2 separate regions of the Homo sapiens genome follow, and region 2 is linked to region 1. The links come from fine-mapping of genetic effects on gene expression. A gene starts in region 1. The other region holds a variant in brackets. All regions are shown on one strand. Distances are from middle to middle.

Region 1 (5,389 bases):
ACAATCAATTCACTCCTGCCTCTACTTCTCAGGTTCAAGAAATTCTCCTGCCTCAACCTCCCGAGTAGCTGGGACTACAGGCGCATGCCACCACGCCCAGCTAATTTATGTATCTTTTTAGTAGAGTGGGAGTTTCACCATGTTGGCCAGGCTGGTCTCAAACTCCTGACCTCAAATGATCCTCCTGCCTCAGCCTCCCAAAGTGCTAGGATTACAGGCATGAGCCACTGTGCCCGACCTGCATTTGTATTTATGGATACATGTTTGTGTGCATGTATTTATACACATGCTGGCTGTGACTTAACCAAAACAAAATCCTATAAAGTAAAATGTCCAGATTTTACAAAACACTTTCATAAACAATGAAAGCTTGGTATCAACAATACAAAATGACCTCAAAAACCCAATCATTTGTAAATTGAGTGATCTACTTGTAAATTTAATAAAAACATGGTATTAAACAATATTCAGATCAAAGGGAACATCATAACAGATATGTCAGTTATCTAGGAAGTAATGAAAAGGCTAATTCTGTATGCCAAAATCTATGATAAACCTGTTTATATTCACAAGCTTTCATTATTAAAATGAAAAAAGGCTGAACATAAATGAAATAATTATTCAATATAAGAAACTAGAAAAAACAATTAAAATAGTAAAATAAAAGAGAATAAAGATAAAAACGGAAATTACTAAAATAGTATAAATAGTAGCCAACAGAAATATATCCAAACATCATTTCTCTGAAAATAACTATAAAACAGAAAAAGTACTAGCATATTAGATTGAGAAAAAATAAGATGGCACAAAGAAATGAATGAGATTATGAATAAAAAGGCAATAAAATCACAGATTTAAGAGATTAAAAGAAACATTATAAGTGCCGGCCGACACCCCGTCTGGGAGGTAAGGAGCGCCTCTGCCTGGCCGCCCCGTCTGGGAGGTGGGGAGCGCCTCTGCCCGGCCACCCCGTCTAGGAAGTGAGTGCCTCTGCCCGGCCGCCCCGTCTGGGAAGTGAGGAGCACCTCTGCCCCGCCGCCCCGTCTGGGAGGTGTACCCAACAGCTCCGAAGAGACAGCGACCATCGAGAATGGGCCATGATGACGATGGCGGTTTTGTCGAAAAGAAAAGGGGGAAATGTGGGGAAAAGAAAGAGAGAACAGATTGTTACTGTGTCTATATAGAAAGAAGTAGACATAGGAGACTCCATTTTGTTCTGTACTAAGAAAAATTCTTCTGCCTTGGGATGCTGTTAATCTATAACCTTACCCCCAACCCCGTGCTCTCTGAAACATGTGCTGTGTCCACTCAGGGTTAAATGGATTAAGGGCAGTGCAAGATGTGCTTTGTTAAACAGATGCTTGAAGGCAGCATGCTCCTTAAGAGTCATCACCACTCCCTAATCTCAAGTACCCAGGGACACAAACACTGCGGAAGGCCCCAGGGTCCTCTGCCTAGGAAAACCAGAGACCTTTGTTCACTTGTTTATCTGCTGACCTTCTCTCCACTATTATCCTATGACCCTGCCACATCACCCTCTCCGAGAAACACCCAAGAATGATCAATAAATACTAAAAAAAAAAAAAAAAAAAAAAGAAAGATTATAAGTGCATAGTCTATGTACTTCTATGGCAATAAATATGAGAATTCTGAAGCGAGTGGCTAGTTTCTTGCAAAAATATTCTAACTGGCTTCCCAAAGAGGCAGAAAACTGAATCTACAAATAAAGGAAGGTGTTGAAAAGGTAATTAAAGAGACGCCAGGTTAAAAAATAATATACATCAGACCCAGATGGTTTCACAGTTGTGTTCTACTTGAGCTTTAAAGAACAAATCATTTCTATGTAACATAAACTTTTCTAGGCTAAAGAAAAAGCTGGAAAATTGCCCGATTTCATGATGTTAGTGTAACTTTTAAGCTATAACTTGCTAAGATGAGTGGAAAATAGTGGAAAAAATTGTAGGATAATTCTATATGCTTATTGTGCATGATTAGGTGCAAACATTCTAAATTACAACTCGATAGATTCTACTATATTCAAGATAATGACCAATATTTTTAATATTGGATGAAAGCATGAATGAATGGCTTAAGATCATTTATTTTATTAAATTAAAGGAGAAAACCATCTGTTTATATTCATGGGAGGTGATGATGGAAAGGCATTTGGTAAATTGCCTAAAAATGTGAGGCTATTCCTAAAAAATCTCTAGGTAAGATAAGAGTAGAAGAACATGACCATTACTTAACAGCAAATATCATTGGAAAGAAAAAAGCAATTATATATTTCTTTTAAAAATCAAGGGAAAAATACAGAATGAACACCAGTACCACTCTTACTTAACATGGCTTTGAAGATTCTTGATAAACCAGAAAGCTAAAGCAATTGTTAAATTATTAACATATATTTTAAAGCTACAACAATGTTTAGTTTGCAGATGTTGACACTAAATATCTAGAAAATTGAAAAAACAATTAAAGGTACTTAAGAATTAGTGAGGCAGAGTAGTAAAATGAATGATAAAAGCTGTATATGTCAAAATTGTCTTGCATTTTATGCCAATAGAATAAATTTTAAAATTAGATTATATTTTTATTCATAATAGCAGCTAAAACTACAGAATAACTAATAAAATAGATTTTAATATACATAGATTATATACACACCTATATATGTTTTTTCTTTTCTTAGTCAATCGTGTTTGTGTGTGTATAAACATATATTTCCAGGAACTTTGTGCTCACAGTGAAGGACAAAGCCACATCCTGAATGAATGAAGAAATATAAAATATTCCTTGTTGGGGGGGATGAGAAACAGTCATGTAACCTATTAATTTAATACAATTCCAAGCAAAATCTTTTGATACAAAGAATGTAATGAAAGAGAGCAACATGAATACTCTGTCTCACTTCCCAGGTCAATGTTAACATAGCTAGAAAATGGAAAAGTGCTTACCTTGCTGGTGTTCAGTAAGCAAAATGTAACCCTTTCTTATTTCCCTCGTTCCCACACCTAGACGACCATGGGGCCACGACAGAGAAGCAAGAGGGTGCATTGCACTGAGAACAAGCAGCTTGTCCTCTTTCTCCCAGAATAGCTCACCAGGACTGAACTATTTCTACTTAAAATATTATACTTCTGGGAAGTTGATAGATAAGCATGGAATGTCGAGAAAACTAAGGCAACTGACCATGTGTCTCAAAGAGGGCAGCCCCATAAACTTCTGCGAGGCATTATTAAGATGCTCTCACTCTTGTTGCTGCTTTTATACACTACTCTTCTGTGTTTATAGCTGCAACGTCAATGGGCAGGCGAATTTCTACTTCTCTTGTCCAGTTGCTAGAGGAAAGCAGAAAGTTGCACACATAACTGATGGTTGAGTCAGTCCATGAAACTCCAGACATCATTCCCCGGGGTTATGTGGAGGTTAGTCAGACTGCAACCCTTTTTCATTGTCTTTCCTTAATCCTCATGAAAAGTTGCACTTTTCTTTTGTCGTTAGAGCTGATTTAGAAATTGTAATTTATGTTTCATTAATATTCATTTTTGTCAACATGATTATTGTTTTTTAAGGAAATATTTATTGCATCTACTTATTATTTGGCATTGACCATGAGATGATGTGATTCGGGAAACCTTGATAATAAATTTTCCCTCTGGAATTGCAAACTCTATCCTTCTCACTCTGAACTGCAGTTTCTCTCAATTCTTTGCAATTTCATGCATCCCAAGGAGGTGAAAAATACTCCTCTCTTACTGGAGATAACTTTAAATTAAATCCCTGATCTGTTACATTTTCTGTGACAAAAGGGCTTTCTTAAGATATTATTCTGGATTTTGTACATCAGCAAAGCCTGTTGTTTCCAGCCTGTTAGTGTGATATATCAAAAATGCACACAGACATATAAATTTCTGATCAATTATTTTGAAAACTCTAACCCATATGAAACTTTAACCAATGTCCATATTTTTAAGTTACTATTTTTAATAGCCACACAATAATTCCTTCTTCCTGAAATATTCCATAGACATAATGTAACCCTAGGAAACCCAGTTGCCCTTTGCATGGCTGTGGAGAACTTCTCAATACTTGATTGTTTCACATAAGGGAAATTAGATTTTTAATAAAAAGATCACAGTTATCTTTGCCAGACAGTTAAATACCTGCATGAAGTACTCATTGAAAATATACTTTTTTAATACAATGTTTTAAAGGTATACCCATGAAGCTAAAAAGACTGCAAGAAACAGAAGCCAAAAAGACTGCAAGAAACACTGCAAAGCAAATACCAGCTCTGACAGATGTCACGTGGCATCTGCTGAAACACGAATGGAGGTTTTATTAATGTTCAACTGTATTGTGTACAATAGCAACAGCTGATTAGCGATGGGAGTGGAAGATTCTGACTTCACTCTTCCCCATCACTGTTTCTCTAGCTGCTAATTAAAATATCTCAGAAATTTTAGACATCTTTTTATAACTCATTGTAATATTTGTTCTCCCTCAAATCTACTCCATACAATTCCATATGCCTTTTCTGACTTACATAATTCTGCTTTGACATAAATGATTAATACAGTTTGAGATGAAAAAGAATACAAGTGTAAATAAAAAACTCCCTAATACTGCGAAATTTTATTTTATTTTTATTTTTATTGTATTTTTGAGACACAGCTTCACTCTGTCGCCCATGCTGGAGCACAGTGGTGCAATCGAGGCTCACTGCAACCTCCATCTCCCAGGCTGAAGAGATTCTCTTGCCTAAGCCTCCCAAGTAACTGGGACTACAGGCACGTGACACACCATGCATGGCTAATTTTTGTATTATCAGAGATGAGGTTTTGCCATGTTGGCCAGGCTTGTCTTGAACTCCTGACCTGAAGTGATCTGCCCACCTTGGCCTCCCCAAGTCCTGGGATTAGAGGTGTGAGTCTCCATGCCCATCCATAATGCAAAATTTGAAAATGCCTTTGTTTTGTATTAAAACCTAGTTGTCCAAAAGATTTCAAATAAACTATATATTTGCACAAAGGATCACAGTTATACTTTGATTCCTTAAAAAAAGGGAAAATAACCATGCTTAGAAAATGCATCCACACTTTTCACACAGCAAATGTACTAAAAGATCTTCATTTGATTAAATATTTTTTCATGTTTGAATGGAAACCACAAGATCTGTATAACAGACATGTTCTTAGAGTCTAAGAATGCTTCCTTGATACCAGCCAGTTTCAGCTGACATCTAGCAATTCTAGTATTCATGTGAACTTGCTATAACAACATCAGGATACTTCATAAAGCAATTGTTGAAAAAAAAAAGTCAAACTCTGTAAAATATTTGAAGAGATTTATCCTGAGCCAAATATGAGCAATCAGTGTCCCATGA
Region 2 (5,389 bases), 910 kb after region 1:
AGGAACATTCACGCTATTTATTCGGGAGTACTGACTCCAGAAAGTACAGGAAGCTTGGACTGCTCGGCGCCATTGGTAGGGTCTTCCGTGGTGTACTTGGCCTTATTTATTTTTTACGACATTTGACAGAGGGCAGAGAGAGAGCAAGCATTAAAACGGCAGAAGCTACTGGAAACGTCGTGAGCAATCTACAGTCATACCACCGTGAACGCTCCCAATCTTGTCTGGTCTCTGAAGTACAGAGTAGATGCGATTGGGCCCAGGTTCGGGCCTGTTTCATTGTTGGATAGAAGGAACTTTCTGAATGCTTTGTTCCGCTTAAGCTGTGTATTGTTGAAGCACTCAATGGCCCAGCCATTCGACTAGGAGCATCCGTATTGCCTCTTTGTGATATGGTTTAGGCTAATGAAAAGACTTGGTTTCCAACACCCTCTTCTACCTCTGGGCAGATTCCAGATAGCTGATCTACCATTACGTTTCCGAAATCATGGGACGACCAGCTGCAAGCGAGACGATGCTCAGTGGGTTGAAACTGATCACACAGGAGGCATTTGGCAACGGCTTTCTCTCCCAGCTGTTTGGATCCTGGACCTTCACTCAGGAAATTGGTGGCTCAGATCAAGAAGCTTGTCTCATGTAATCGAATAGTGCTGGAGGAATCCAAAGCCTTGGTGTGCTGCAACATGAAGAGGGATCTGGAACAGGCCAACGAGAGAACATGTGAAGTACTGAAGAAAATCTGGGGTTCTGCCCAAGGGTTGGACTCCATGTGAAAGGATTTAGAAAGGAAGATGAACGAGTTTCGAGTGTCAGGCTGCACAGTGACCACATCGGGTTCCAGCTGAGAAGAACACCATTCCTTCCGGGTGTCCTTATCCATTCTCACAGCCTGAAACAAGCTCACTGGTAGCTTATGCTTGTAAGCAGGACCGGGAACATTCACGCTATTTATTCGGGAGTACTCTGGATAAATCGTTCCATTATTTCGGAAATGTAATGCTAGGTCAGGTATCTGGAATCTTCCTGGAGGTAGAAGAGCGTATTGGATGGAAGGAACTTCGTGAATGCGATCATTGAACTCCAGAAAGTACACCAAGCTTGTACTGCTCGGGGCCTTAGGTAGGGTCTTCTGTGGCGCACTTGACCTTATTTATGTTTTACAACGTTTGACAGAGGACAGAAAGAGAGCAAGCATTAAAAGGGCAAAAGCTACCAGAAACATCGTGAACAATCTACAGCCATACCACCGTGAACGCTCCCAATCTCGTCTGGCCTCTGAAGTACAGAGTAGAGGAGATTGGGCCCAGGTAGGGGCCTGTTTCATAGTTGGATGGAAGGAACTTTGTGAATGCTATCATTTAACTTAAGCTGTCTATTACTAAACCAGTCAGCCGCCCAGCCATTCGACTAGGAGCATCCGTATTGCCTCTTTGTGATATGGTTTAGGCTAATGAAAAGACTTGGTTTCCAACACCCTCTTCTACCTCTGGGCAGATTCCAGATAGCTGATCTACCATTACGTTTCCGAAATCATGGGACGACCAGCTGCAAGTGAGACGATGCTCAGTGGGTTGAAACTGATCACTCAGGAGGCATTTGGCAACGGCCTTCTCTCCCAGCTGTTTGGATCCTGGACCTTCACTCAGGAAATTGGTGGCTCAGATCAAGAAGCTTGTCTCATGTAATCGAATAGTGCTGGAGGAATCCAAAGCCTTGGTGTGCTGCAACATGAAGACGGATCTGGAACAGGCCAACGAGAGAACATGTGAAGTACTGAAGAAAATCTGGGGTTCTGCCCAAGGGTTGGACTCCATGTGAAAGGACTTAGAAAGGAAGATGAACGAGTTTCGAGTGTCAGGCTGCACACTGACCACATCGGGTTCCGGCTGAGAAGAACACCATTGCTTCCATCTGTCCTTATCCATTCTCACAGCCTGAGACAAGCTCACTGGTAGCTTATGCTTGCAAGCAGGACTGGGAACATTCACGCTATTTATTCGGGAGTACTGACTCCAGAAAGTACAGCAACCTTGGACTGCTCAGCGCCATTGGTACGGTCTTCCGTGGTGCACTTGGCCTTATTTATTTTTTACGACATTTGACAGAGGACAGAGAGAGAGCAAGCATTAAAACGGCAGAAGCTACTGGAAACGTCGTGAACAATCTACAGTCATACCACCGTGAACGCTCCCAATCTTGTCTGGTCTCTGAAGTACAGAGTAGATGCGATTGGGTCCAGGTTCGGGCCTGTTTCATTGTTGGATAGAAGGAACTTCCTGAATGCTATTGTTCAGCTTAAGCTGCGTATTGTTGAAGCACTCAATGGCCCAGCCATTCGACTAGGAGCATCCGTATTGCCTCTTTGTGATATGGTTTAGGCTAATGAAAAGACTTGGTTTCCAACACCCTCTTCTACCTCTGGGCAGATTCCAGATAGCTGATCTACCATTACGTTTCCGAAATCATGGGACGACCAGCTGCAAGTGAGACGATGCTCAGTGGGTTGAAACTGATCACTCAGGAGGCATTTGGCAACGGCCTTCTCTCCCAGCTGTTTGGATCCTGGACCTTCACTCAGGAAATTGGTGGCTCAGATCAAGAAGCTTGTCTCATGTAATCGAATATTGCTGGAGGAATCCAAAGCCTTGGTGTGCTGCAACATGAAGAGGGATCTGGAACAGGCCAACGAGAGAACATGTGAAGTACTGAAGAAAATCTGGGGTTCTGCCCGAGGGTTGGACTCCATGTGAAAGGACTTAGAAAGGAAGATGAACGAGTTTCGAGTGTCAGGCTGCACACTGACCACACGGGGTT[C/A]CGGCTGAGAAGAACACCATTGCTTCCACCTGTCCTTATCCATTCTCACAGCCTGAGACAAGCTCACTGGTAGCTTATGCTTCCAAGCAGGACTAGGAACATTCACGCTATTTATTCGGGAGTACTCTGGATAAATCGTCCCATTATTTCGGAAATGTAATGCTAGGTCAGGTATCTGGAATCTTCCTGGAGGTAGAAGAGGGTATTGGATGGAAGGAACTTCATGAATGCGATCATTGAACTCCAGAAAGTACACCAACCTTGTACTGCTCAGGGCCTTAGGTAGGGTCTTCTGTGGTGCACTTGACCTTATTTATGTTTTACAACGTTTGTCAGAGGACAGAAAGAGAACAAGCATTAAAAGGGCAAAAGCTACCAGAAACATCGTGAACAACCTACACCCATACCACTGTGAACGCTCCCAATCTCGTCTGGCCTCTGATGTACAGAGTAGAGGAGATTGGGCCCAGGTAGGGGCCTGTTTCATAGTTGGATGGAAGGAACTTTGTGAATGCTATCATTTAACTTAAGCTGTCTATTACTAAAGCAGTCAACAGCCCAGCCGTTCGACTAGGAGCACCCATATTGCCTCTTTGTGATATGGTTTTGGCTAATGAAAAGACTTGGTTTCCAACACCCTCTTCTACCTCTGGGCAGATTCCAGATAGCTGATCTACCATTACGTTTCCGAAATCATGGGACGACCAGCTGCAAGCGAGACGATGCTCAGTGGGTTGAAACTGATCACACAGGAGGCATTTGGCAACGGCCTTCTCTCCCAGCTGTTTGGATCCTGGACCTTCAATCAGGAAATTGGTGGCTCAGATCAAGAAGCTTGTCTCATGTAATCGAATAGTGCTGGAGGAATCCAAAGCCTTGGTGTGCTGCAACATGAAGAGGGATCTGGAACAGGCCAACGAGAGAACATGTGAAGTACTGAAGAAAATCTGGGGTTCTGCCCAAGGGTTGGACTCCATGTGAAAGGACTTAGAAAGGAAGATGAATGAGTTTCGAGTGTCAGGCTGCACACTGACCACATCGGGTTCCAGCTGAGAAGAACACCATTGCTTCCGGCTGTCCTTATCCATTCTCACAGCCTGAAACAAGCTCACTGGTAGCTTATGCTTGCAAGCAGGACCGAGAACATTCACGCTATTTATTCGGGAGTACTCTGGATAAATCGTCCCATTATTTCGGAAATGTAATGCTAGGTCAGGTATCTGGAATGTTCCTGGAGGTAGAAGAGGGTATTGGATGGAAGGAACTTCGTGAATGCGATCATTGAACTCCAGAAAGTACAACAACCTTGTACTGCTCAGGGCCTTAGGTAGGGTCTTCTGTGGCGCACTTGACCTTATTTATGTTTTACAACGTTTGACAGAGGACAGAAAGAGAGCAAGCATTAAAAGGGCAAAAGCTACCAGAAACATCGTGAACAATCTACAGCCATACCACCGTGAACGCTCCCAATCTCGTCTGGCCTCTGAAGTACAGAGTAGAGGAGATTGGGCCCAGGTAGGGGCCTGTTTCATAGTTGAATGGAAGGAACTTTGTGAATGCTATCATTTAACTTAAGCTGTCTATTACTAAACCAGTCAGCTGCCCAGCCATTCGACTAGGAGCATCCGTATTGCCTCTTTGTGATATGGTTTAGGCTAATGAAAAGACTTGGTTTCCAACACCCTCTTCTACCTCTGAGCAGATCCCAGATAGCTGATCTACCATTACGTTTCCGAAATCATGGGACGACCAGCTGCAAGCGAGACGATGCTCAGTGGGTTGAAACTGATCACTCAGGAGGCATTTGGCAACGGCCTTCTCTCCCAGCTGTTTGAGTCCTGGACCTTCACTCAGGAAATTGGTGGCTCAGATCAAGAAGCTTGTCTCATGTAATCGAATAGTGCTGAAGGAATCCAAAGCCTTGGTGTGCTGCAACATGAAGAGGGATCTGGAACAGGCCAACGAGAGAACATGTGAAGTACTGCAGAAAATCTGGGGCTCTGCTCAAGGGTTGGACTCCATGTGAAAGTACTTACACAGGAAGATGAATGAGTTTCGAGTGTCAGGCTGCACACTGACCGCACCGGGTTCCGGCTGAGAAGAACACCATTGCTTCCAGCTGTCCTTATCCATTGTCACAGCCTGAGTCATGCTCGCTGGTAGCTCACGTGTGGAAGCAGGACTCGGAAAATCCACGCTATGTATTATCGAGTAGTTTGAAAGTACTGTAGCTTTAAAATAAAATAAAATCACTTAAAATAAAATGAAATACTACAATGCTTTTCTGTCTAAGCATCAGTATTTTATAGTCATATACACACAACTATAACAGTTTAATGGTGATCACAGGATTGCTCTTAGAAGCTCTAATTTCTCTTGTCTTTGGCTAGTACTGTATAAAACCAGAAGTGTGTTTTATTGATTTTGGTGACAGAAAAATCTGAAATAATGTTTGTTTTGGTCATGTTTTCCTTCTAGAACAGAGAATCTAAAGGGGTATTAGCCCGCCTCACCTCCCCTGTCCTACATAGAGACACAGAGTCATCTGAGGCATTGGCTTTTTCTCCAAGTAGGT

Which allele goes with the higher level. Positions count from the first base shown, and alleles are read on the strand shown. Sizes are in standard deviations (SD) of each study's normalised expression.
For the expression in aorta of the gene that starts at base 3,240 in region 1, C is the high allele of the variant in region 2 and A is the other (small effect, 0.30 SD a copy in GTEx).

Evidence for each region. PIP is the estimated chance that this variant, and not a neighbour inherited with it, causes the effect.
Region 2: its variant is the best candidate, but not a certain one, in a credible set for the expression of LINC03113 in aorta (GTEx, PIP 0.72).

The regions. Positions count from the first base shown.
Region 1 is chrX:8,501,325-8,506,713 of GRCh38, forward strand. LINC03113 (long intergenic non-protein coding RNA 3113) reads right to left here and starts at 3,240. Exons shown (of 5, transcript XR_001755793.2): 1 at 2,958-3,240.
Region 2 is chrX:9,409,697-9,415,085 of GRCh38, forward strand. LOC107985634 (a long non-coding RNA gene) reads right to left here. Exons shown (of 4, transcript XR_001755795.1): 3 at 4,851-5,045; 4 at 1-4,762. It also overlaps the pseudogene LOC442443. Among named protein-coding and RNA genes, the nearest start is that of TBL1X, 53 kb to the right of the region's middle. RefSeq lists a silencer at 4,759-4,964. The variant C/A (reference allele first, on the strand shown) is at 2,815.